Homo sapiens: one gene and its partners. The protein of the gene in region 1 purifies or fractionates together with the protein of each later gene. This does not show direct contact. Each region holds a gene or a part of one and is shown on either strand. Other genes may lie near its edges. The genes, in order: TSHB, SMCHD1, FKBP14 and TINAG.

Evidence for each region.
Region 2: the proteins of TSHB (region 1) and SMCHD1 purify together in Homo sapiens (affinity purification with mass spectrometry; 2 studies listed by BioGRID and IntAct, with this or other methods). This does not show direct contact.
Region 3: the proteins of TSHB (region 1) and FKBP14 purify together in Homo sapiens (affinity purification with mass spectrometry; 2 studies listed by BioGRID and IntAct, with this or other methods). This does not show direct contact.
Region 4: the proteins of TSHB (region 1) and TINAG purify together in Homo sapiens (affinity purification with mass spectrometry; 2 studies listed by BioGRID and IntAct, with this or other methods). This does not show direct contact.

What each region holds. Positions count from the first base shown.
Region 1 is NC_000001.11:115,025,571-115,032,844, forward strand, and holds the start of TSHB (thyrotropin subunit beta isoform 1 precursor), read left to right. Parts: upstream 1-4,255; 5' UTR 4,256-4,290; intron 4,291-7,274. UniProt on the Homo sapiens protein: Indispensable for the control of thyroid structure and metabolism.
Region 2 is NC_000018.10:2,658,698-2,665,726, forward strand, and holds part of SMCHD1 (structural maintenance of chromosomes flexible hinge domain-containing protein 1), read left to right. Parts: intron 1-7,029. UniProt on the Homo sapiens protein: Non-canonical member of the structural maintenance of chromosomes (SMC) protein family that plays a key role in epigenetic silencing by regulating chromatin architecture.
Region 3 is NC_000007.14:30,023,694-30,030,626, forward strand, and holds the start of FKBP14 (peptidyl-prolyl cis-trans isomerase FKBP14 precursor), read right to left. Parts: upstream 3,010-6,933; 5' UTR 2,816-3,009; coding exon 2,619-2,815; exon of another isoform or gene 1,694-2,618; intron 1-1,693. Other genes in the region: PLEKHA8 (pleckstrin homology domain-containing family A member 8), read left to right, coding at 5,070-5,109. UniProt on the Homo sapiens protein: PPIase which accelerates the folding of proteins during protein synthesis. Has a preference for substrates containing 4-hydroxylproline modifications, including type III collagen. May also target type VI and type X collagens.
Region 4 is NC_000006.12:54,311,434-54,318,462, reverse strand, and holds part of TINAG (tubulointerstitial nephritis antigen), read right to left. Parts: intron 1-7,029. UniProt on the Homo sapiens protein: Mediates adhesion of proximal tubule epithelial cells via integrins alpha3-beta1 and alphaV-beta3. This is a non catalytic peptidase C1 family protein.

The DNA of each region.
Region 1 (7,274 bases):
ACTGCATATATATGACATATTTGTTTATCACCTGTGGATGGACATTCAGGTTGTTTCCAGTTTGGGGCTATTAAAAATAAAGATGCTATAAATGTTTATGTACAAGTTCATGTATGGATATATCTTATTATTTCTCTTAGATAAATACTGAGGAGTGGAATGATTGGGTCATATTGTAGGTGTATGTTTAACTTTTTGAGAGACTTATGGACTGACGAACTTGTACCATTTTATGTTTCCATCAAACATTGTATACAAATTTCGATTGCTCCACATCCTTGCTAACCCTTGGTATTTCCAATTTTTAAATTTTAGGCAGCCCAAGACGTGTGTAGTGCTGTCATTGAGGTCTTAATTTCTTATCTCTGAGACTAATGATGAAAATTTTTCATCTGTTTACTTCCCATCTACATAATTTTGTGAAATGTCTATTCAAACATTTGCTTATTTAAAAAATTGGATAATTTTTTTCTTATAATTGAGTATAGCAGGTTCTTCATATATTCTGTATACAAGTTCTTTATCTTATATATAATTTGCAAGTTTCTTTTCTTTCAGTTTGTGGTATGTCGTTCTTTTAACAATGCCTTTCGAAGAGAGAAGTTCTTAATTCTGATGGAGTCCAATTTATCATTTTTTGAAAATGGATCATGCTGTTGGTGTTATATCTAAGAAAGTTTTGCCTAATTCAAGTTTTGCCTAACAAAAGTTTTTTTTTTTTTTTTTGGGACGGAGTCTCGCTCTGTCGCCCAGGCTGGAGTGCAGTGGCGGGATCTCAGCTCACTGCAAGCTCCGCCTCCCGGGTTCACGCCATTCTCCTGCCTCAGCCTCCCAAGTAGCTGAGACTACAGGCGCCCGCCACTACGCCCAGCTAATTTTTTGTATTTTTAGTAGAGACGGGGTTTCACCGTTTTAGCCGGGATGGTCTCGATCTCCTGACCTCGTGATCCGCCCGCCTCGGCCTCCCAAAGTGCTGGGATTACAGGCGTGAGCCACCTCGCCCGGCCCTAACAAAAGTTTTATTCCATGCTTTCTTCTAGAAATGTTAGAATTTTAGTTTTTATATTTCATGTTAATATTTGTATATAATGCAAGATATGTATTGAAGTTATTTATTTATTTTTAAAAAGTATTTATTTTTATATATGGATAACGAATTGTTCCAGCACCATTTGTTGAAAATACTATTTATTTTCTACTCAATTTTGTTTTCACCTTTCTTGAAAATAATTTGACCACATGTGTACAGGTTTATTACTGGACCATATTTTGTTCCAATGATCTGTCTTAACACCACTTTCTTAATTACCATAGGTTTACCATCTTGAAATCAGCGATTCAGTAAGATTTTCAACATAGATGGTCATGTCGTATGTGAATAAAATTTTACTCCTTCCTTTCCCATCTGAATGTCTTTTTTCCTTTGGCTTATTGCGTTAACATTGCACTTACAGCACAGTGTTTAATAGAAGATGCAAAAGCAGACGTTTTTGCCTTTTTCCTGATCTTAGAGTAAACGTACTCTGTCTTTCAATATTAAGCATGATATTAATCATAAATTTTCCATGATGCCTTTTATTAAGTTAGGAGGTTTTCTTCTATTCCAAGTTTGCCGAAAATTTTTTCAGGAATCTATGTTGGATTTTGTAAAATGCTTTTTGTGTATGTGGTTGTGTGTGTGTGTGTGTTTCCATTGGGATCATCATAAGGCTTTTAGTTTTTAGCCCGTTAGTAGGGTGAATTTTCTTAATTGAATGCAAACTAAACTCGCATTCCTGAAATAAATTCCACTTCGACCATGATGTATTATTCTTTTTACATATTGTTTATTTTGTTTTGTTAAATTTTGTGAAGAATTTTTGCATCTATGTTCATTTCATGAGGGTTATTAGTTTGTGGTTTTCTTTTTTGATAATGTCTTTCTTGTGAACTCTAGCTGCCTTGGGGATCCATGGACTCCCAGGTCTATCTCTTCAATTTGGTGATGCTTCTGGCCTCTGCCTTGGTAACTTTTCATGCACTATGGCACAGAAACTTTCTCCAGGCAGTCTCTCCCTGTTTGTTTCCCATCTCTCTCGGATCATGTACTTTTGTTACCTGATGTCCAATATGTATAAAGACATTATTTTATATATTTTGTACTGTTTTATAATTATTTTAGGTGAGAAAGTAAACCTGGATCAGAAGCACAAATTCAACATGCCTGGATTCTTTTAACAGTATGAGATCATATACACTAAGGCCTCTTTAGCAAGAAAATCACTACCCAAATGCATGGTATTTATTATAGTTCTTTTAGTAACAGGCCAAGTGTCTATCAGTTGTCCATTACATATGTACACACACACATACATACATATATCTCCCAGGGATAGGTATATAAATCCGCTAGAAAATGAGTTCCTGAATCAATGCTTTATACAAAGGAGGCACTAATTCCATTAGAAACACACATCCAACATTCTTCCATTTATCATATTCCTGTGTTAGCATCTTGTCTGAAATTAGGTTGGCACACTCATTTCCAGTTTCCCTGTTTTCAAAATTATCTTACTACATAGTAGCTCACATTCCCAAGACCTTGGACCCTGGCATGGCCATTTCTAGGTATATATCTGTTAAACTAAATGTGGCCTGAGGATACCTCTGTTTTGTGAGTTCCTACATAATGAACTGCAACCTAACTTAGTATGTACACTACCTGAAAGCCTAACTTAGGAGTATACTTTTGTAACAGACAGCTGAATTTCAGCTCATCACAGCAGCTGAGCTTCAGTCAATTACAGGCAGCCAGCTGATCAGACTTTGTCCAAGTAAGGCAAGTGCTGATGTATAATGAAATCAAGCTGTTTCGATATCTCATTTCTACTTTCTGTCCATAAATGCTGTCTGCCCACATTGAGGAGCAGAGCTCTGTGAATCTCTTCTGATTCTGAGGGCTGCCTGATTTGACAATCATTCTTTTTTCAATTAAACTGACAAAAACAAGCAATGGGGAAAAGATTCCCTGTACAATAAATGGTGCTGAGATAACTGGCTAGCCATATGCAGAAGACTGAAACTGGATCCCTTCCCTACACCATATAGAAAAATCAACTCAACGTGGATTAAAGACTTACATGTAAAACCTAAAACTGTAAAAACCCTCGAGGATAACCTAGGAAATATCATTCCAGATGTAGGACCGGGCAGAGATTTCATGACGAAGACGACAAATGGAGTTTCAACAAGAACAAAAGTTGACAAATGGGACCTTTAACTAAAGGGCTTCTGCATTATGGCCCAGAAACTTTCTCCAGGCAGTTTCTCCCTGTTTGTTTCCCATCTCTCTAGGATCGTGTACTTTTGTTACCTGATGTAACAGGAAAAGAAACTATCAACATAATAAACACACAACCTACAGAATGGGAGAAAATATTTGCAAACTATGCATCTGACAAAGGTCTAATATCCAGAATCTATAAGGAGCTTAAACAATTTATAAGCAAAAACTGAAGAACCCCGTTAAAAAGTGGGCAAAAGACATAAACAGACACTTTTCAAAAGAAGATATATACATGGCCAATAAGCATATGAAAAAATGCTCACACCACAAATCATTAGAGAAGTGATATTACCTTTTAATAGAAACTGAAGAGGTCAAGCATGCCAATGTCATATGGCAAGTAAATGGCAGGGCCAAAATTTTATCTCAGGTCAGCTTGACATCCTGTCAGATGTGGCCATGTTCCTCAGAGTCATTCTTTCACATGTGTAAATTTTACTTAATATCTTAAAATCCCCCAAAAATATTTTGAACTACACATTTTGTTCTAAACAAAATTTTTAGATGAGGAATAATTTTATATATCTTTACATGAACATTTAGGTAAAACTTGAAGCCCTCAAGCCCCAAATAAATTTTTATTCCCAAGACTTATTTAGATGATGTTAGAGTGTTTTTTGAATTTGGTTTTTCCCATTCTGTATCTATCTTTTATTAATATTAATAAATAAATATTAATAAAGAATATATTTAAAAGGTAATTTTATTTTGAAACAGAAGAGAGGAAAATGCATGCTTTAATAATGTCAGTTTCCAGGTAAAGATATTGTGAGCTTGTTTGTCTAAATACATTTTATTTGGAATTCAGTATGAATTTTCAATAGATGCTTTTCAGATAAGAAAGCAGTAAATCAAATGCAATTGTATAAACAAGAAGATCAGAGGGATTATCCTGAAGGGTATAAAATGAACCAAGAGCTTTTAGTTTGGGTCACCACAGCATCTGCTCACCAATGCAAAGTAAGGTAGGTGTCTATAGTGAGAAGGCTCTGTGAAATGATATGTTCTTAAGCTATTTTTTTTCACTTTCACCATTTTATCATTTTTTAGAAAGTGGCAAATGCTGAAAGATAATTTGCTTCAACAGGCTGTAATATCTTAAATTACTGCTCCAAATTGTTTAGTAGTAGATGGAGGTGAGAGAACTACCTACATAAGGATAAGGAAAAAATTCATTGACTTAAAGAAAGAGAAACAACTGATTAGTTCCCTAATGAAGGATATTTGATATTCATGGCTTTCTTCTGTTTTCATTTTGATTTAAATATTGTTGTCCATTTAATGATGTGTGTATTAAATCCTCTCAATTACTGTACTAATGGCCATCTTTTATGAAAATGTACTTCCGGGAATGTTAGAGCAAATTCATTTTTGAGTACCTGCTGGGGTAATGTACTCTGTATTATAAGTTCTTTTTAGTTATTTAATAGCTAAACCTCCTTTGATAGTGTTCAACACACACACAGCTGCTGTATAGTACATTTTGCTTTCTAGAAAAATATACTGCTTTAGTGAAGTTCCAGGATTATTCATAGGATGGGCAATTAGTTCTTTTCATAGTAAGGGATTTGGAGAGTAAAAATTAATGAAGGAAATTAGCAGAGCAGAGAGGAAAGTGTTTATTAAGAATGAAGCATTGGGAGCAAAAATAAGAGAAAAAAAGAGAGGAAAGAGGCAAAGGAAAGAACATATCTTGGAATAAGAAAATACGTTCAAAGTAGGGACATATATGTCCATGCATCTGAAGAAGGCATCTCATTATTTAGGCCCTGCCTGAAACCATGCCTTCTATGTTTAGGTACCCAACAAATTATTCATGGTGATTTCAGAATAAGCAATTAAGTGGCAAAGATGAGAACCCAGATGACAATGAGGAAGAAATTGTGGCATATCACAGAGGAAGGGATTAACTAACGCGGATTTGTACAGTGTTATACAGCTATGTGATCTTTCTTATATAGAGAGCCAAGTGTTTCACATGTATTGTTTTATTCTTTTTATGATTTTAGGAAGGGACATATGGAAAAATGAAGGCACAAAGATATTAAATTGCTCAGTTGCACACAATTACAATTAAATCCTTAAGTAGAATTTAGATCACTAACTCTTAATCAATCAATCAGATCTGACACTAATTTATCATATAGAATTACAGACTATTTGTGCTGCGAAGATTTTCATGATCATCTTCTGGCTCTAAGCCCTGCTTTTATAGGTGAGAAAGTTGAGGCCCAGAAAGATTCTGTGGGTGAAGTTTTACTATTCGCAATAAAGAAGTAAAGGAAAAGAAAAGTTCTTGCTTTCTTTATGCCCACAAAGTTGTACAGATACTGTGGCTGGTAATTCAGCACTTCCATTTTCTACTTTTGTTAGTTTAGAGTTCTACATTTATAGGAGAAACTTCAAAAAAATATAGAGTATCCATAGTTAGTATGACAATAGGAAAACCAAAACAAATTTTCATCCTACATTTTAAAAAGGGTCAGGTGTACTTGTCACTTTCTATTTTGCAGATGGGGAAATAACACTCAAACAGATTATATATTTTAGTCAAGTTCTCATAGATTTATGGAAGAATTCTGTTTCTTAATTTTTAGACCAATATTTTCATCACCAGGTCACCACATTGATTTTATACAGAATTATAGAGCTAAAAGTTAAAATATGTGAAGTTAGTTGTTTCCTATAGAAAAAACTCAGTAGCTGGCTGTCTAAACAAGCAAGAACTATAATGGCCATGATGGGTAAGCATTTTACATAATTTACCAGTTAGTAATTTTAAGATCCTACAGAGGATCATCAAGTTCTGTATCTCTAAAATACTGGAAGCAACTCTGTACCATAGAGGGAGCTCACATTTGAGAAGCGCTTGAGAAAGCCAGATTCCATGAGTAAGGAATTTGTATGTTTTTGCTCCTTAACTCAAATACCAAACAAACCTTCCGTGGAATGTTTGAATATGCAACATTTCATTTAAAAGAATTTGTGAGAAAAACCCCTGTTATTTTAACCTTTAAAAGTTAAGTCTTCCTAAAATGGGTTAGTTTACTTTCTTGTGTAATAAGAAGTATAGTAAACATAAATCTTTGATAATTGTAGGTCTTAAAGTCTTAATTTGGACTCTTTCAGAGCACTAGAACAATCTGCGTTTTTATTATTTGTGTTCATATTAGCTCCTCCACTGGACAGTCAGCCCTTTAGGTAAAGGACCGTAGCTTTTCCGTTTGTGTTTGTCAGTGCCTGGTTCAGATGCTCAATATATGTTTATCTAATTTATCTACAATTCTCATTCTAGGAATAGAAGGTTGATTGAAATGACCACTGATCTCTGGAATTTGACATTTAAAATAAATCCCTGGTAACCTGTGTAATGTGGTTTTCATGGTTTCTTATAAGTTGATTGAAAAAAAAATCCTGGTTAACCAAGGCCGAACCTATGAGGTTTCAGTTTACAGAGGTTTTAGTGTATATAGCTTAAAGATGCTGTTGGGATATAACTGACAGATTTGGGGAAATCTTGGTACTTCTGATTATTGAACAAAATATTTAGTAAATTATATTTTATTTAATAGAACAAGCAAACAAGTTTATGTTCATAGACCACAATACTACTCCATTAAGGTATATATTTTCTTTACTGACAATGATACTTGAGAAGGAAAAAAATCCAAACACATCTAGCTAGCTGTACAATATTTGTAAGATTAAAAAAATTCTTCTTAATCTTCAAGGTGATCAACTTACATTCAAAAGTCTGAAATTTAATTACCCTTCCTCAGTAGTAGACCTAAAATAATTATGTCATAACATTATCCAGAGGGATAATGATATCAATATCAATATCATATCAATATCATATTGATATGATATATCCAATATGATATCATATCCAATATAACTATATCCAATCAATACATATTGATAATGATATCCAATTGATATTGAACAA
Region 2 (7,029 bases), on another chromosome or scaffold:
GTACTCGAAGAACTGAATTAAGTCAGTGAATTAATAATCTGAGATTACATGGTCAACAAGCAGTGAAACTGGGATTGGAATTTAGGTCAATTTGATTCCAAAGCTTATGTATACATATACATATATATGTGTGTGTGTATATATATGTATATGTATATATACATATATATACACACATACACACATATATACACATATATACGTGTATACGCATATATACATATATACACATATATACACATATATATACACACACATATATATATTTTTTACACTACTCCACACTATTTATTAGAACCATCACTTTTGTCCTTAGGGGAAGAGACAAAATAATATACTAAAGTTTTTGTTAAAATGTAAATTAAACCAATAAATGTTTGTAGTGTCAGGCAGTATTATGGGTGATCCTAAACTGTTACTTATTTATTTATTTTTTTTGAGACGGAGTCTCGCTCTGTTGCCCGGGCTGGAGTGCAGTGGTGCCATCTTGGCTTACTGCAACCTCTGCCACCCAGGTTCAAGTGATTCTCCTGCCTCGGCCTCTTGAGTAGCTGGGATTACAGGTGCCTGCCACCACGCCTGGCTAATTTTAATACTTTTAGTAGAGATGGGGTTTTGCCATGTTGGCCAGGCTGATCTTGAACTCCTGACCTCAGGTGGTCCACCTGCCTTGGCCTCCCAAAGTGCTGGGAATACAGGCATGAGCCACCACGCCCAGCTCTAAATTGTTATTTGAATAAAGTTCACCTCATGGAAAAGGAGAGGGAAGAAATGGAAAGGACAAATCTGCAAGAAGCCCTTAGACCTCTGATAAGCAGCTGTTGACTCACCTGAGCCCTTGTGGCCTTGCAGAATCAACGATTAGAAGATGACTCATTTGGTTAGTTCTAAAATATGCCCAGATGTTAAGTCCCATGTGTGCATATCCCCCCACCACCAATTTGAAGAAATTGTCTACATTTTCCTTTGTGTGGCTCCAATGTTTTTTGTTGTGCGGCTATTCTAGGTGTTTTGTATTTTAATATAAGATGTGCTCATCAATTTCTACAATAAACTTGAGATTTTGAAAAAAAAAAAAAAAAAAAGCAGAAAACTATGGCTTAGCAAGTGCCATAGTAAGGTAACGAAATATAATGGAGCCACATTAAAAGCTGACTAGTTTGCAGAGTTTCAGAGCAGTGCTAATTAAGCTGTGTGCTTTCTGACTAATCCATGGATGAAAATTACCTGTTGTTCAGAGATAGTGAAAAAATAATTTTAAAAATAAAATTAACTGATCATTTTGGTAGGTAATCATTTTATGCACTGCAAGTCAGTTAGTCCTTAAATATTTAAGAGAAGTTGGGGACGGCATAGTGGCTTACACCTGTAATCCCAACACTTCGGGAGGCCAAGGCGGGCGGATCACCTGAGGTCAGGAGTTAGAGATCAGCTTGGCCAACATGGTGAAACCCCGTCTCTACTAAAAATACAAATATTAGCTGGATCTGGTGGCGGGTGCCTGTAATCCCAGCTACTCGAGAGGCTGAGGCAGGGAGAATTACTTGAACCCGGGAGTCGGAAGTTGCAGCGAGCTGAGAACGCACCGCTGCACTCTAGCCTGGGTGGCAGAGCGAGACTCTTGTCTCAAAAAACAAACAAACAATAATAAAATAAAATACTTAGAAAAATTGTGAATTCAAGAAATAATTTTTATAGATGAAGCAGGGAAAACAAAAAGATAGTTTATGTGTCTTAATTAAATAATAATAAATTTATAGATTAAAAATCCATGGTTTTTTTTTTTTTTTTTTTGATGGGAGTTTCACTCTTGTCACCCAGGCTGGAGTGCAGTGGCGCAATCTTGGCTCACTGCAACCTCCGCCTCCCAAGTTCCAGCGATTCTCCTGCTTCAGCCTTCCAAATAGCTGGGATTACAGGCACCAGCCGTCATGCCCGGCTAATTTTTGTATTTTTAGTAGAGATGGGATTTTACCATGTTGGCCAGGGTGGTCTGGAACTCCTGACCTCAGGTGATCGATCTACCCACCTCGGCCTCCAAAAGTGCTGGGATTACAGGCATGCGCCACCATGCCCCCTGGAAAATCCATGGATATTTAATATGGATGAAAAATCCATGGATATTTCATATGGATTTTTGATGTGGATTAAAAACCATGGATTTTTAATATGGATTAATTTTAAAGTTTATTGCAGCACTATTTACAATAGTAAAGACGTGGGACCAACACAAATGCCTATTGATGATCAACTGGATAAAGATAATGTGGCACATATACACCATGGAATACTATGCAGCCATAAAAAAGAATGAGATCATGTCCTTTGCAGGGACGTGGATGAAGCTGGAAGCCATCATTCTCAGCAAACTAACACAGGAACAGAAAACCAAACACTGCATGTTCTCACTCATAAGTGGGAGTTGAACAATGAGAACACATGAACATAGGGCGGGGAACATCACACACAGGGACCTGTTGTAGGGTAAGAGGCAAGGAGAGGGAGAGAATTAGGACAAATACCTAATGCATGTGGGGCTTAAATCCTAGATGACAGGTTGATAGGTGTGGCAAACCACCATGGCACATGTATATCTATGTAACAAACCTGCATGTTCTGCACATGTATCCAGGAACTTAAAAAAAAAAAAAGATAGTTTGTGTGTCTTAATTGAATAATAGTAGATTTATAGATTAAAAATCTATGGGTTTTTAATATGGATTAGAAATCTGTGGGTTTTTAATATGGATTAGAAATCTGTGGGTTTTTAATATGGATTAGAAATCTGTGGGTTTTTAATATGGATTAAAAAACATCTGTGGGTTTTTAATATGGATTAAACATCTGTGGGTTTTTAATATGGATTAAACATCTGGGTTTTTAATATGGATTAAACATCTGTGGGTTTTTAATATGGGTTAAAAATCAAAAGAAAATGAACTATTTGCTCCAGTGCAGGAAAATACAGGCAATACTGGATACAATTAGATGGTCAGGAGCGATAACCCGGTTGCCATTGTTTGAAGAAGAGAATAAGGTGCTAGCATTCCTATCCGTAGATAATTTGACAGCTAGGAAATAGGGGGAGTCTTCTATGTAGTTAGTGAAGGCTAAATGAACTATTATATGCAGTTATCGTAGAAGAGTACTCAAAAAAATCTGTAAAAAATAAAGAAAGGCCGGGCGCGGTGGCTCACGCCTGTAATCCCAGCACTTTGGGAGGCCGAGGCGGGTGGATCATGAGGTCAGGAGATCGAGACCATCCTGGCTAACAAGGTGAAACCCCCGTCTCTACTAAAAAAATACAAAAAATTAGCCGGGCGCGGTGGCAGGCGCCTGTAGTCCCAGCTACTCGGGAGGCTGAGGCAGGAGAATGGCGTGAACCCGGGAAGCGGAGCTTGCAGTGAGCCGAGATTGCGCCACTGCAGTCCGCAGTCCGGCCTGGGCGACAGAGCGAGACTCCGTCTCAAAAAAAAAAAAATAAAATAAATAAATAAATAAATAAAGAAAGAAAGAAAGAAAGAAAGAAAAAATAATAGACTTATGTGGGATTATATGGAATAATTAGATATGTTTAGGTGAACATAGATCTTAAAAAAATCATTTGCACATAGTTTTTCAGTAACTACAGGATGCATAATTACATGATTTAACAAGTGGGACATTGGCCAGGCCTGGTGGCTCACGCCTCTAATCCCAGCACTTTGGGAGGCCAAGGCAGGGAGATCATCTGAGGTCAGGAGTTTGAGACCAGCTGGCCAACGTGGTGAAACTCTGTCTCTACTAAAAATGCAAAAATTAGCCAGGTGTGGTGGCACACGCCTGTAGTCCCAGCTGCTTGGGAGGCAGAGGCAGGAGAATGGTGTGAACCCGGGCGGCGGAGCTTGCAGTGAGCTGAGATCGTGCCATTGCACTCCAGCCTGCACAACAGAGCAAGACTCCATCTCAACAACAATAACAACAAAAAACCAAAAAAAAAAAAAAAAAAAAAAAGGGACATCATAGAAATAAAAAAGTAGTAATGAATTAAAAAATACACGACTGTCATGGTTATATGAAACCTAATAAAAATCTATAAGGTCATTTTTGTCTCTGTTAAACAAATAGAATCTTCCCAGTCAGTTTATGTTCATGGCTTTATTTCTCTAGGGTGGAATTGCATGGAATATGAGTATCTTTTAAGTTTACTAAAGTATGCCAAATTAATTACTTTCTTTATGTTTGACTTTTTTTCAGTCATATCAGCAGTGTGTAAGGTACCTATTTCTCTGTACAGAGGCCTACACTTGATGGGCTCAGAATTTAACATTTTTGCCTACCTGATGAGAATAAGTTATATTAATTTCACTGATAACTAGTGATGTTGATCTTTTTATGTTGTCTGGTCTTTTTCTTTATGACTTGTGCTATTTGCATCTTTTGAGACAGAGTCTCACTCAAAAGTCACCCAAGCTAGAGTGCAGTAGTGTGTGATCACGGCTCACTGCAGCCTCGGCTTCCCAGGCTCAGGGGATCGTCCAACCTCAGCCTCTTGAGTGGTTGTGACTACACGTGTGCACCACCATGCCCAGCTATTTTTTTTTTTTCCATTTTTTGTAGAGATGGGGTTTTACCACATTGCCCAGGCTGGTCTTGAACTCCTGAGTTCAAGCAATCCGCCCACCTTGGCCTCCCAGAGTGCTGGGATTACAGCTGTGAACCACTGTGCCTGGCCCACTGTTTGTACCTTTTCAGAAATCCCTTTATGCTCACTCAAAATTATTTCCCTATGTGTTCTTTTACAATTTTGGGCTAATGTACAACTGCTTTAATTCTCCTGGAATTTATTTTTGTCTAAGTTAAGGTGTGGATTTTATCTGTTTCCATGTTGAGATAACTAGTTGTCTTAATATCATTCATTGGATAGTTTATTCTTTCCCCACCAATTTGTAATGTCACCTCTCTTGTTTGCTAGGCTCTGCATCCATATATATGTGGACCTGTCTAAGGGCCCTCTATTCTCTTCCACTGGTCTATTCCAGGAATTTTTTTTTTTAAGACGGAGTCTCGCTCTGTCGCCCAGGCTGGAGTGCAGTGGCGCGATCTCACCTTACTGCCAGCTCCACCTCCCGGGTTCACGCCATTCTCCTGCCTCAGCCTCCCGAGTAGTTGGGACTACAGGCGCCTGCCACCACGCCTGGCTAATTTTTTTGTACTTTTAGTAGAGACGGGGTTTCACCGTGTTAGCCAGGATGGTCTCGATCTCCTGCCCTCGTGATCCACCCTCCTCAGCCTCCCAAAGTGCTGGGATTACAGGTTTGAGCCACCGCGCCCGGCCTATTCCAGGATATTTTAAAGTAGAAATTTTCTTATGAAAACCTTCAGACACAAAGAGAGAATCATGTTATGAACCCCAGTGTACTCATCCAGATTCAAGTTAATAGGAATTTACCACACTAGGATCATTTTTGTTTTTGTAATGTATTTAAGGCATATTCTAGGTCTTAGGTCATTTCACCCCATATACTTCAGCCTGAATATGTATTATCAAACCATTAAAATAAAGCATTTTTAATATTGTCTAATGTCCCTGTCCATATTGAGTTCTCTGAATGTTTAAAAGTATCTTTTTATAGTTGGTTTGTTTAAATCAGGATCTGACATAGTCCTCACATTAAATTTGTTTTTTTTTTGTTTCCTAATTATTTTCAATTTAAAGCATTTGAGCAAATTCCTCCTCCACCAGTCTCTTTAGTTTTCCTGCAGTTGACCTCTTGAAGAAATCAACTAGGTCTTTAATATTCCACATTATGGATTTGTTTGTGCTCTTTTTTGGTGTTACTTAATTTGTTTTATCTCCGTATGTATTCTGTAAACTAAAAGTTAGCTTTAAAGGCTTGATTTGATTTAGGTTCAACTTCTTTGGGGTCAGGAGGCAAAGAATGCTTTGTAGGTAGTACTGATACTTCATATGGCATTACACTGGGAGGCACGTGATGTGTGGGTGTTTCACCCACTCATAGCAATGCTAACATTAAAATCTTGGGATTCACGTGATTTCAGCAGGATTCCTCCATAAGGAAGTTTTGATCTGACTTGCCATTCCTCCTGTGTTTATTAGCTGGAATTCTTTAAGGAACAACTTTGCCTCATCAGCCAGAGCTATTTTGGTTATCCTGAAGTACCATTGATACAAGAAAAGCAGTGTAAATAATTTGTTCTTTCCCTTTAATTTGTCAGTGTTCAGAGTGACAAGTTGGTGCCCTAGCTCATCCCAGTGGTGAGCAATAATGGTTTTTATTAATATCATTTTTGAAGATTTGAGTATCACTAGTCTAGATTTTTTAGATGTTTTCAATAAGAATGTTAATCTTTAGACTAGTCCATTACTACCCGAAACAGAAGCCTTTTCTCTTAACTATATATTGCTGTATTGTTTCATTTTAGACAGAGCATGTATGTTTTAATTCTAATGTAAATGAAAATGTTAACCACTTTTCTAATTCTCATTTTTTGATTAATGTGATTTTACAGTTCATGTGTTCATTGGTCATTTGTATTTTCTCCTTTTCATTTTTTTGTGTTTTTACTTTTTCTCTTTGTTGATCCTTGTCACCCTTTTGTTTCTTGTTGCAATTTCCCTCTAATTTTTTTTTTTCTTTGAGACGGAGTCTCATTCTGTTGCTCAGGCTGGAGTGCAGTGGTGTGATCTTGGCTCACTGCAACCTCCGCCTCCCCAGTTCAAGTGATTCTCCTGCCTTGGCCTCCTGAGTAGCTGGGATTACAGGTGTGCGCCACCACACCTGGCTAATTTTTGTATTTTTAGTAGAGACAGGGTTTCACCATGTTGGTCGGGCTGGTCTTGAACTCCTGACCTTGTGATCCGACGGCCTCAGCCTCCCAAAGTGCTGGGATGACAGGCATGAGCTACCATGCCTGGCCAGTTTCCCTCTAATTTATAATTTGCTTTAATTTTTAAAGTTATTCGTTTGAATGGACCTGTATGTCTTACAAAGCATGGCTGTTCTTCCCTCCGTGCTATAAAATGCT
Region 3 (6,933 bases), on another chromosome or scaffold:
AATCATGGCGGAAGGCAAAGGAGGAGCAAAGGCACGTCTTACATGGTAGCAGGCAAGAATGAGTGTGCAGAGGAGCTGCCTTTTATAAAACCATCAGATCTCGTGAGACTTATTTACTATCACAAGGAGAACAGCATGGGAAAAACCTGCCCTCATGATTCGATTACCTCCCACCAGGTCCCTTCCACAACATGTGGGGATTATGGTAGCTACAATTTAAGATGAGAATTGGGTGGGGCCATAGCGGAACCCTATCAACTGGGGACGAGGGAAATAGAATGTCCTGGCTCATGAGTTGAAGAGAGTCTAGCCTAGGAAAACCAACCTGCCGAACTACATACAGGGAGGCTTAAGGGCTGAGTAATGCCTGATCCCTACCTAGCTCCCTTTCAGTGCAATAAGGAAAATATTCTATTCAAGGATATCTTGTAGGTGAGAAAAAGAAGTCACTGTACTACGCTTCATGAGTACCATGGTTACTAAATCTGGGTAATGCCATTTTTTCCTGTAATTTTGCCCAATGATCAAAGTAACAAAATGCCAACTGTAGAAAATTTGGGAAGGCTAGAAATGAAAAAAGAAGCAGGAAACATTCTACTACTCATCACTGACTACAATTTTAGCACAGTTCTTCTTAGGGCTAAGCAATTTATCCCATAGGCTATGGTTCTAGAGATGGCAAACGTGCTTACAAACTGATCATTTGATGGTATTTCTTTTTCTTCAGAGCGGAGTCTCGCTCTGTTGCCCAGGCTGGAGTGCAGCGGCGCAATCTTGGCTCACTGCAGCCTCCGCCTCCTGGGTTCAAGCGATTCTCCTGCCTCAGCCTCCTGAGTAGCTGGGATTACAGGTGCCCACCACGCCCAGATAACTTTTGTATTTTTAGTAGAGACGGGGTTTCACCATGTTGGCCAGGATGGTCTCAAACTCCTGACCTCGCGATCTGCCTGCCTCGGCCTCCCAAAGTGCTGGGATTACAGGCGTGAGCCACCACGCCCAGCCAATTTGATGGTATTTCTTCATGAAGTTTACAGTTAGCAGCTTCTGACCATTTACATGGAGGCTGCATGATAACAGTCCCCTCATCAGGTATTAGAACTTAGTAGCAAACTGCTAAATAATATTCCATGGCTACCACCAAAGTCAGCACAGGTTTTTGGTTCAGAAATCTGAAAGAAGTCAGGCTGAGTCTAAAAGAGATCAGACTAAAAATAACAATATAACTGAATTTTCAAAATGCAAATCACATCATTTAATATCCACCGTGGCACTCACCTAGTTGACAAGAAGAAAGGGCTGTTGAGAATTCTAAGGCAAGCCATTTTTCTGGAACTTTTTCCCAGGGCTAACAGTTTAGAGAAGAGCCCCATTCATTTCCCCAACCCTCAAGACAGACCAGGTCTGAATGCCCAGTAAAGGCAGTTTATTAGAAAATCAGGTGGAGGATGGGCTATGAAGATTTACTGTTTTAATTCATGTTATTCCCTCTACCTACAACATCCTTCCCTACTTTCCCCCTGGAAACCTCCACCCATCTTCCAAGGTTCATTTCAATTATGGTCTCTGGGAAGTCTTTCCCTTTCCCCACCCCATGGAGCCTAACTACTTCAGGCCCAGTTACGCTTTGCTAGCACTTTGAATATTCTGTACCCTATATCATTGCATTATTTACTTGTCTTTCTCCCACCTGTAGATGGTGTATACTGTTAGAGGACAAGAACCTGCTTCTAGCCATCTTTGCGTCTCCAGGACCTGACTTGTGACCATTCAATAAGAGTTTGATAGATGGACAGACTAATGAATAGATGAAGATGATTAGAAGCCAAAATTTCTGAATCTTCCTAGCACCCAGAACATGGCTTAACATCAAGGAAATGCTCACTAAATACTGTCATAATGGAATGAATGGAACCGATGCCTAATTGAAAATCATTAGGCTGTAAACCATTTCCATGTTCCAATTTCTTCGTTTATAGAACAGAAATGATAGTGTAACCACCTGAAAATCCTTCACCTAGACTTCCAAAACCACACCCACCTCATCAATGAAGTCTGACTCTCTAGAAAGAAGCAAATGACTGAAATCATGGTCCTGTGCCTTGACCAAAATACCATTCGTCAGAACAAAAGAAGTAGGTCAGTGAAACGGCATTAGTATATCCTTCAACAGGCAAATAAGTGATAGTGTAGTTTGCTTTTGAAGTCGCTGTGAAAAGTTTTAGGTGAACATCACCTACACCACATTAAAAATGGAATCAAGTCATTTTCTTTAAGAAATGGAGTTTGAGATATGAGAATTCTTTTGGGCTTTTTCTACTTATTGGCCAATTATACACCCAGATATATTTCTGCAATATTTCAAAGATTCTAGTTCTAATTTGTATAATAAAAAAAATTAACAGCCTTTTCCAGACCACATGTTTCCAACAAGACCTTCAAAGGCCTCGCTCGCTATATAAAACTGGCTTTAAACAATTTCCTTTCCCAAAGAAGGAAATAAGATATTTCGGTTTTGTAAAAGAGGCAAAACCAGGTACAGGCCACCTTTCCTGCTGGAGAGCTGGCATAAGTGAGTGGATTCTTAATTACTATTTTACCTGCGGGGCATAATTACTTACGTGGAGTGAAATAAGGAGCCGTCCTTTTCTAAGTAGCCTTCATAGTGGACCAACATCAAATCCCCTCCTTTGGTCTTGCGATGGCAGATGAATGGCTTCTGGAGAACTTCAATTTTCACTTCTGGTTCAGGGATCAAAGCCCCAATCAAAGAAGTGACGAACAGAGTCAAGACCGCGTTCCACAAGAAAAGCCTCATGTTGCTGAAGCAAGGAAAGAAGTCCCTACAAAAGCAGCGAAAGGTCCCTCGACTTCATAGATTTAAGAACGTAGTTCAAGGCTTACGGACAAGGGCTTCAGACAAGTTCAGGACTCCCCCTTCTTAGAAGACGTGGCACATTTACCACCAACTCTTTTCTCAAGGGTCACGAACCTACCTTTAAAGAGTTAAGCCCAAATGCCGGCCTGACTGGCTCTTATAACGCGGCCGCCTGGGAATAGCAGCCTCCCATTGGCTATTGGTGCTGTCCTTCAGGCAGCTCTCAAGCCAATGACGCTGCAACGATGGAATTTACAGCCCGGTAGAGCCGGGCAGCTGCCAAGCGGCGGATCATCCCTTGTGGTCCTAGAGCCCGGTGGATTTCAGCATTCAACCAGCGTGGATTTTGGGAGAGGGGCGGGGCGCAGAGCCAACCGGAAACTCCTCCGGCTGATTTATCTCTGTGAAGAACCCTGCTGAGAGACGTAGGAAGAGTCCCGGGGCCCTATGAAATCTTCGGGGTTCCAGGAAAGACTCGTTTACTCTCGCCGTTGGAGAGCGGCCCCCCAAGATGCCACAATCCTAGGATTTTGCTATTGCTTATAAACTGTAAAGACTGACATACTGCTTGAGGGTTCACAAAGCGCGTTCCCGTTGCATGAACCTCACTACACCCAGTAAGGCAGGTTCTTTTTTCCCATTTAAAAGAGAAGTAAATTTACACCAGGAGATATTAACTGTCCTGCTTAAGGTTGTTTGGCCCCGAAGCAAATGAGCTCTGCCTTCAAACCAGGTCTGATTCATTCCACAGCACCACGTCATGTTATGGCTGCTAATAATTTATCCCTTAAGTTACCTTACAGGGTAAATAATGAGTTTCGACTTGCAGACTTCCGCTTTAAAGAAGAAATGGTAATCATGGTTACGAATTACACAGCCTCATCGTAGTTTACATTTTCTAGTTTTACATTTTTTGCCTAAGTTCAAAAGTAATGCATGTTCATTGAAGTCATTTTGGAAGAAATTGGAAAGCACTAAAGTAAGATTTCCAGATAATATTGGGGAGTCGAATCAAGTTGGAATTTCAGATACATAACGAATAATGGTTTTGCATTTTTATTTACTAAATCAGGCAACTTTAAAGAAAAAGAAAGCTCGCCGATACCACCACCAGCCGCAAACAATCCTCTTAATATTTTGGTGCATGCTTCTGTGACATATACTTAAAGCGATTTAAATCGTATTGTAGTCTTTTCTCACCTCCTCTTTCCACTTAATCTGTAGTTAACATTTTTTCTGGTCTAATAACCTTAACACAGTGCATATCCGCACTCTATGTGCATAGGAATCCCCCTGAAGATCTTGTTTAAAATGCAGATTTTGATCTGGAGGTCTGGGGTGGGTGCAAGATTCTGCATTTCTAACAAGCTCTTAGGTGATGTCAGTGCTCCGGGTCAGTAGATCAACACTTCCATAGTGAGACCTTAGAGTCTGGACAACATCTGTTTACACTGGCCTCATAGTATTCTACCCTGAAATTCCAATAATCTCTTTACGCCCTGTTATTGGTTACCTCAAGTGTGTGAGATCAATTAGGCAGCTTTGGAACAAGAATAGGGACTAGAACTCAGGAGGTATCGTGAGAGGTCACGTAGACCCTCAAACGGCGGGCACCATTTACAGTCAGAACTGCGCTCCACACTTGTCTCAGGGGCCTCCCTCCTCCCGTCGCCTAGTCCGCAGTCCGCGTCTCGGGACTCAATTTCCCTGCGGGCCGTTCCCGCAAACTCCGCCCCGCCGCCGCTGCCGCGAAATCCCGGAGTGGATTTTGGGAAGGGGCGCGCGAGCGGCGCCCTGGGCATGCGCGAGCGCGTCCCGGGCCCGGCGAGTCGAGGGTTCAGGTGGTGCGCCGTGGCGCCGCCTGCGACCGGCAGCTCGTTCGCCGCACTTTGGAGGCTTCGGCTGCCCCTCCGACCCACGTAGGGCCCGGACCCGGGCCTCCTTGTGAACAGCGTGCCGGCTTCGCCCCACGGGTTCACCGGCTGGCTGGGCTTCAAGCGCCGAGGCCGCCGCAGTGACCCCGCCCCCGGGCCGAGGATGTGAGGCGGGCCGGGCGTCCCCACACCGGGCCCGGGCGCCGGGAGTGGGCGTCTGGGCAGCGCCAGGCGATGGCCCTGCTGCTGGTGCTCCTCGCCTCTTGGGGCCTGGGGCAGTGAGGGGGCCGGCGGGCGTGGGCCGAGTGGCCGCGGGCGCCATGGAGGGGGTGCTGTACAAGTGGACCAACTATCTGAGCGGTGAGTGGCCGTGCCGGGCCGGGGGCGCGCCGGGGGCCGGTCCTTTGTCTGCGCGGCTGGAGGGCGGTGTCTGGACCCGTCTTAGGGAGGGGGTCACGGCCCTTTCCTGAGGCCAGCGCGGAGCGGGAGTATTTCCCAAAGCAGTTCTCTCACGGGACCGTGTCGCCGTGCAGGACGACACGGCCCTCTCTTGGGGTTGGTTAAGAGCTGTGGCTGCCCTTTCGCTTCAAGGAAGGCTACAAAGACTGAGATTTTGGGTGACTTGAAAGGCACGGTGCTCTTGATGTCAGCGGGAGGAAGGCGCAGACGCCCCGCCGTGGGGTTCTCTGGGAATCTCTTGAATTTTGGCGAAGGAACCGTACTCCCTTGGCTCGCAGCTAGGTTGGAAGGTTTCAAAAGAATGCCAGCAGTAACCTGGAATTCCACAGCGGAAAGATCCTTTATCAAAGTCCTCAGTGCAAACACTTTCCCTTTGTCACCTTCAGAGTCATCTGCGTGCACACCAGGGTGTCAAGAGTCCCAACTCCACAGTTTCAAAGCTCTGCACAAGGTTTTTTATTTTCTCGTTGAGCATTTCCTTTTGTTTTACAGACTCAGAAATTACCGTTAAATGAATGCAAATATTTGCAACTTTCTTGCCGTGCCTTACAGATTGGCTTTAAAATAGTCCCCGCCCTTTTTTTCTAGTTTGTGGAGGTAAAAGCTTCATATCTTGAGAAGGTTGTAACTGTTCTACAGCTGTGAAAATTATTCAGAACGATCATTTTTGTCATGTGTGCAACTAGTATTTAATACAAGCCTACTATATGCTGGAAACTGTGCTAGCCACTTTTTTGGAAGTAAACTTTTTATCACAGAAAATGAATTAGGTCTTTAAAATTTTAAAGGCAGTGTGTTTGAAAGCAGAAATGTTCCCAGTATCCCTTAGAGTGGGTGAGAGACGTTTTCTTTCTTTTGTGGGATAGTTTTTAAAAGGTTGTAGTATGGTAATGCGCCGGGTGTTTTAAGAATGGGTGTGTGTGGGAGGATCAGTTGGCATACATAGTAACTTCGAGGAGGTCACACAGCACAGCCAAAGGTGCCCCTATTGGGCGTACCCAGAATCTCTTCCCTTTGCTTAGTGTAATTAGCAGTGAGTTCACCTGTTTATTTTTTTTCTGTAATCATTAATAGAGACTAAATGAGAAGAGGTTTTTCTTGTTTGCGTCAAGGACCTTCAGTGATGTCTGCAATTAGATTAGATGAGAATAACTCAAAGCTAGGCTTTGGTTTGGTGGATGACAGAGGCTGATCAACACTGCTAACCTAAGGGGAGGAGGCTCGACCTGGCAGTTTTCCTTCTGAGGTCTCTCTAAGCTCTCAGATGCATATACTTGAGTAAAATTTAGTTCCTGATCCTTCACTCCTTTCCATTACACACACTTTTTTTCATTCATCTTCAACATTCTTCTTTTTTTCCCATTCTTCCCCATCCCCAACTTTTTTTGTTGTTTTGTGGGGTTTTTTCCCCCTCTTTTCCTTCTCCTTTCTATATAGAAAGTTTAGTCTCTTGATACAGTAACTATTTCCTGGTAGTGAAATGCTTTTGCTGTTGTTGTTGCTGACTGTCCTTGTGTATCCTTCAATAAAGCAGAACTCTCTAGAAGGATCTTTTGGAATCTTTGTTATTTGATTCCTATCTGTTCTGTTGGAAAAGAGTCTACTTTTTTCTTCCCAAAGTAAGAGAAGTTAATGCTGTGAGTGGTGCTAGGGTGGAAACCCTGAAGAAGAGGGCACTGGAGCCATTGCCAGAGACAGCTGTCTCTACGTGATGCTGCTTGTTCC
Region 4 (7,029 bases), on another chromosome or scaffold:
AAGGGAATCACTCATGGATTGAATCTGGTGAATGAGGGAAAAGAGGAATCAAAGATACCTCATTAGGACTTTGGCTTGAGTAATAAAGAAATGGTACAGCTATCACTAAAATAAGAAACAGGCTTGTGTCAAGAAATCAAGACTGCTACTGTGTATATTTTAGATTTAGATAAAACCTAGGCTAGACATCCTAACAGAGATATCAAGTAGACAGCAGTTTATAAAAGACAAGAGTTAAGCCCAGGCTGGAGCATGAATTTGGGAGACACCAACATCCATATCTACTTTTTCAAACACAAGACTAAATAAGAGTCTTTTGGAGAGAGTGTATATAGGTAAGAGAAAGTGGTCCAGGACTGAGCTCAAAACACTGCATCTGACAGACATTCAGAAGAGGAAACTGCGAAGGAGTGGCCTGTGAGGGAACAGAAAATTGAGGAGAGGGTGGTGTCATGAAAAACAGGGTTAATACAGTGTTTCAAATGCTCTAGGTGGTCAGCTGCATACAGTACTGTCGAGAGGCCAAGAACACAAAAACAGACATCTGAATATTGCATTTGGTAATGTAGGAATTGCCAATAACCCTGCCAAGAGAGATTTCAGTGAAGTAGCAGGGAGCTGACATCCTGTAGGAATGGGTTGATGAGAGACTTGGAATAAGAAAGTAAATTTTTCTTTCAGACATTTTGCCATTAAAGGAAAGAAGGGAATGAGATGGTAGCTGGTTAAAGACATGAAGTTAAGGGAGAGATTTTATAAAGTTGGGAAAGGCAAAAACACATTTTGGAAATTAATGGTTAATCCACATGTATTAGCCTGTTCTCACACTGCTAATAAAGACATACCCAAGACTGAGTAATTTACAAAAGAAAGAGGTTTAATAGACTCACAGTTCCACATGGCTGAGGAGGCCTCACAATCATTGCAAAAGACGAAGGAAGAGCAAAGAGACATTTTATATGGTGGCAGGCAAGAGAGAGCTTGTACAGGGCAACTCCCATTTATAAAACCATCAGATCTTATGAGACTCATTCACTACTACAAGAACAGCATGGGAAAAACCTGTCCCCGTGATTCAATTCCCTCTCACTGGGTCCCTCCCATGACAGGTGAGAATTATGGGAGCTACAATCCAAGATGAGATTTGGGTGGTGACACAGCCAAACCATATCACCAGGAGAAAAGAAAAGAAAAAAATGATGCTTGAGAAGAAAGAGAGAGCAAGAAAGCGAGAGAGAATGGTAGAGATGGAGGTATTGAAAAGATAAGAGAAGATGGGATTCAGAACTCAAGAAGGGGAGTCAATTCAAGGTAAGCAGTAACCCAGATGGAGGTAGGTTGAAAACTATGATTGTGGAGATATGAAAGAATTCCTGTCCGGTAGCTTTACTTTCTCAGTAAAATATGTCTGGAGCTCCTCAGAGTGAGTTAATTAATTGGTTACACACAGCATCTTGACCAAAAAAACAAAACAAAACAAAGCCAAAACTAATGACTGTTGAAATTACGGCAGTTTTGTGACTTTAACAGCATTTAAAGCAATATTAGGCAAATAATATATTTGGAGAATGAAATAGTTTATCTTCTCGAATTGAGAAAAGAAAATAATACATTGTCTATAATTTGTTTTAAAATAATTCATCATAGTATATTACAAGTATCTGTGCTGGTCTAAACTTCACTTCTTGAACTGCAAAAAGATGATGATATGTTGTCTATAATTTATTTTAAAATAGTTCATCACAGTGTATTATAAGTATCTATGCTGGTCAAAACTTCACTTCTTGAATTGCAAAAAGATAATGACATGTTGTCTATAATTTATTTTAAAATAGTTCACCACAGTGTATTATAAATATCTGTGCTGGTCTAAACTTCACTAAAGTAAAGGCAGTTGCTTGCTCTAATCAGGAATCCACCCCCCAGGGTTGTTCAGTGGCATTCACTCTGAAAGACCAGGCTTTGGAGAAACGGCTGCAAGTGCTTCCATTACCCATATTTTGATCAACCCTAGATTATTAGTATAATAAATGTCAGAAATGGGTTTTATTGTTAAAATTCATGACTTGTTAATCAGCATAATTGTGATAAATAATTGGCTCCCATTGGTTAAATTATAATTTTTTTACTTATGAGGATTACCTAAAATATTTCAAAGTCACATACCACCCTTGTATCCCATAGCTTAGATGTATCTCTTAAACTCAAAAGCACCTGTACTCTTAGACTTGGCTCTCTAGGACTGATATTTGTCCTGTGTACTGTGTCCAGCCAAGTAGAAAGGAGGAATTGTCATTCTCTGATAGCCACTGTATAGGTAACAGAGTTCTACCTCTGTAATATTATCACATGTGCCTCCAATAAATCTTTCATGCAACGTAGATGTGGGAACACGTAAAAGGACAGGAACTGGAGATTTCATGAAGCTTATAGACGTTGTATGAATTGGTTTGTGTCATATTTTTGTAACTGTCAGTATACGTGGCAAAGTATGGACTGTGATTTACCTTCATTGTAATATAGTTAAGGAGGCTGTGAAGAAGTAAATAACCCTCTTCGAATTCAAACATGTCAGTGACTCACATACATTTTTTACCAATGTGAACATATTGTGCATAATCAAATCAACTTAGGTCTGTTCACAGCAGATGGTCTACTAGACTTTCTCCTTAAAATCCTCTATACCAAAAGGTTATGTCTAGAAAATCCACTCGAGCTCTGTTTTCAACTCTGTCACTGGTTCTCCATATCTGACATTTGAATTTTTTTACTTTTTTTTTTTTACTTTGACAGGGTCTTATTCTGTCATCCAGGCTAGAGTGCATTGGTGGAATGATAGCTCACAGAAGCCTCAAACTCCTGGGCTTAAGGGATCCTCCTGCCTCAGCCTCCCATGTAGATGGGACTACAGTGTATGCCACCATGACTGGCTAATTTTTATTTTTTTTATTGTTGTTGGTGGGGATGAGGTCTTATTGTACTGCTAGGCTGGTCTTAAACTCTTGGCCGTCAAGAGATACTCCCACCTTGACCTCCAAAGTGCTGGGATTACAGGTGTGAGCCACCACACCCAGCCTGACATTTGAAATCCTTTACTGGAAGTTACCATCAGATATGGCAAAGAAAATACAGAAAGAAGATATTTACCAATATGCTTTACTTCCAGTTTGTACAAAATGGATATATTTACTTTTTTAATCCTGAAGATAATGTACATAGTTTTAAATCCTTGATTTAAAGAGCTCTTAGAACAGGCACAATAAGAGGAACTGAACAATACCCATGTAACTAAATCTCTGAAAAATATATTTAATAGATCAGTGAGTGATCATAGAATCTCAGAGGAAAGTTGCTTTATGCATGCAACCAATAGCATAAATAATATACATTGTATTTTTATCTTAACTAATTTTGCACATTTTTTCAATATTGTGTAGTACTATTTTCAAGTAGCTGCTTTCAAAAGCAAGATAAAACAAAAGAAAAAAAATTATCTGTATGGGAGCATTTATAGTCTAATGTGAACTTTTTGCTACAAAGTAAAATGATTAATTCCTTCCTTTCATAGTGAATGGAGTAAAAACTATACCTGGAACATAAATTCTACATAAACTATGACCCTAAATTAAAGTCTTAGCAAAATTCTACCTCTCAAGCAAAAATGGATATTGAAGAAGTAGCAACTACTTTTTTTGTATGCACTGTATGCCTCAAATAAGAAAATCTCAAGTACATTTCAGCACATTAAAAAATTACAACTCATACTTTTAAACTGAGACTCAAAAAAATATTAAATTGATATAATAACTAATCAAAAGGCAGACATCCAAATAGCCACTGTGTTTTTAGGTGATTCCGCATTCTTAATTTTTGGCAGAGATTGCTGGTTATTCCCAATATCATTCTCTACTCTTTTTTTTTGTAACAGAACCCCATTCATAGCTAGACACATTACCACACAGCTAAGAAAAACCTCTCTTTGATGGTTGGTATGTCCATGTGACTATATTCTGGCCAAAGAAATAAAACAGAGGTGCTCATCTGTGCTTTAGAATGTCTTCTCAAAATGTGGAAACTCTAACCTTCTTTTCCATTTATTTTAAATGGGACTCAAATATCACTTTTGGATCATGAAGAGCCAAAGCAGCTCATGACTACAAGGGCCATTTTCTAAGAATGGTGAAGCAGAAGGCTGCATGGAGCCTCGTGGCTAATGACAAAGTGAATCCAGGCAAAATATCTTATGTGTTAAAAATACGTATTTTAGTTAGGGTTGTCACCAATCTGACATGTTCTTATATGGTACATAGTTTTTATCAAATAAACATTTAACCATTTTAATATACTCAACTTTCCTGGGTGATACTCTTGTCCACATGTGGCATACAAGTCACACGATGCTTCTTAATTGTTTCGCATACCTAAGTCTCCTTACCCATGTAGATCCTAAGTTTCTCGAGGCCTGGGACTTTATAATACCCTTTTCTTATGACCCTCAATGCTTACCACAATCATGGATATATAAAAAGTTTTAAATACTATCGATTACTCCTGTTGATATTCCAACATCCAAAATAATATAGAAATTGCACATTTAAACTATAAACAATAATACTTTGATATTTTCTAAATATCTTTTAAAACTATGTATGAAAAAGTATGCTTATGAAAATATTTTATTATTTTAAATCATATGAGTAAATTATTATTTAATTTAACAAATACAAAATTTGAAATAAAATTTAAATCCTCTAAATATCAATTAATCCAAATTCAAACAATATTTACTAGGCCTCCCACTTCATGGCACCATAATTAGTACGTGATAAGTAAATCACCGTGTTTACTCTTAAGAAGCTGCTGTATAATTAAAATAAAGTAATATTCTATTAAACAACATAGAATTAAATAATGAATGAGTTAATACCTGAAAAGTGCTTAGAACAGTTGTTGGCTCCATAGTAAGTATTCAATAAATCTTAGCTTGTAAGGAGGAGGAAGAGTATGTTCAGTAAGACAAGAGAAAACATGCTACTCAGGGTATTACAGAAGGGTCTGTTAAGTAAATATGTACTATGTGCAGGTTCTGTGAGGGGTGAATTTCCCTTGTCTGCCCAATCTTGTCACTATTAGAAACTATATTTAAATAACAGGAATACGATCCCTAACTAATCCTGGGCACAGGGCTCCTTATGATGCCTTATGTATTCTCATCATGTTACTAATACATATTAACTTCACCTATTATTTTAAGGATCATACCAACATGACAAAATAGAGAAGTTCAAAAAAATACATGTTTAAGATGCTAATTTTAAACGTGTATTTTCTATTAAACATGTATTTTCTATTTTTAAACATGTATTTTCTATTTTTCGATGAAAATACACCTTCCATTTTCAAAGAAATTACCTTCTTTCAATCCCAAAATACCTGCAATAGTAATGGCCCAAGGGTGCATGTACAGCTGTGCAAGTTGTATATGGAGCAAAAATGAGGAGTTCCACTTACAGAAACTACAGACATACTGACCCCGGCAGAGATGAGAGAAGTGGGTCAGAGAGAAAATAGCAAGGGGTAAGGGATATGGGAAAATGGAAAATACATGTTACCAAAAGGTGGCATCCACCACTCATCTCTCTCACTAATGAAAATCTCATGCAAGACCTTGCACGCAGAATTGTCAGATTTTTCAATTTTTCAAGAGTAGCTAAACATCTGGATTTTTAAATAAAAAATCCTGGTTTTTAAATATTTCTGATTCATATTAATGCTATTTTCTGTTGGCTTTATTTTTTTCTATGTAGATTGCCACATTATCTACAAATAATAAGAGTTTTACTTTATTCTCTTCAGACTGTTTTACTTCATTTTTTCTCTTAAAGCATAACAAATATCTCCCTGTTAAATGTAGCAAAAACGGTAGAAACCCATGTTTTATTACTAGTCTTAAAGGGAACTTATCTACATTTCTCCATTATGTATGATGTTTACTTTGGAGTTCTGGTGTAGACAGCTTTACTGTGATAAATAAATACATTTTTGTTTCTAATAACAGAATTGAGAAAAATTGCCAGTAGGATATGAGCTCTCATGAATAAATAGCATTTATTCATAACAACAGCCAACCAACTATAAAATATATTTTAAAAATATATAATACAGTGCTTGAGCTCTGAAGTTTGAAACAGCCTGGGAAACAAGGAAAAACCCCATCTCTACTAAAAATGCAAAAAAATAGCCAGGCATGGTGGTAGGCACCTGTAGTCCCAGCTACTTGGAAGTTTAAAGTGGGAGAATCACTTGAGCCCGGGGAAGGTCGAGGCTGCAGTGAGCCATGATGGCGCCACTGTACTTCAGCCTGGGTGACAGAGCAAGACCCTGTCAAAAACAAAAAACAAAAAACAAACAAAAAAAAAGCAATACAAAATAAATATCCAGGAATAAACAAGAGTATTATAAGGCCACTATGGAGTAAAGTGTTAAATCTATTTAAGGATATTTTTAAAAATCAGAGTAAGTGGAGAAATATCCTATACTCTTTGATGAGATGTCATCACATTACAGAGTTCAGCTATCTTCAAATAAGTCTATAAATTTTATGCAATTCTATTCAAAATTCTAGCTGAAGTTTTTTGAGGAACTAAAAAAACTTATTCAAAAACTGTTTATGGAAGATTAATGTCTACATGACCTAAGTCATCTTCAAAAAAGGGGGGTGAATAAGCTGACTTGCTGTACCTGATATTAAGTTGCATTACAAGGCTGTGGATAGGAAAAAGTAAGTCACAGGAAGAAGAAAGCCAATCATTAATGAGCATATGAAGAGAAGCTCAAACCCACTAGAAATTAGAGAAATGCAAATTAAAATGACAATGAGAAATCACGTTTTACTGATTATATAAGTAAAGGTTACCTCTCTGGATAATACTAATTGTTAGAGACGTGTCCCCGTATAGTACTAGGGGAACATAAACTAATGCAGCTACTTCTGAGAGCCATCTGGCAAGACTTAGATTAAATGCATAC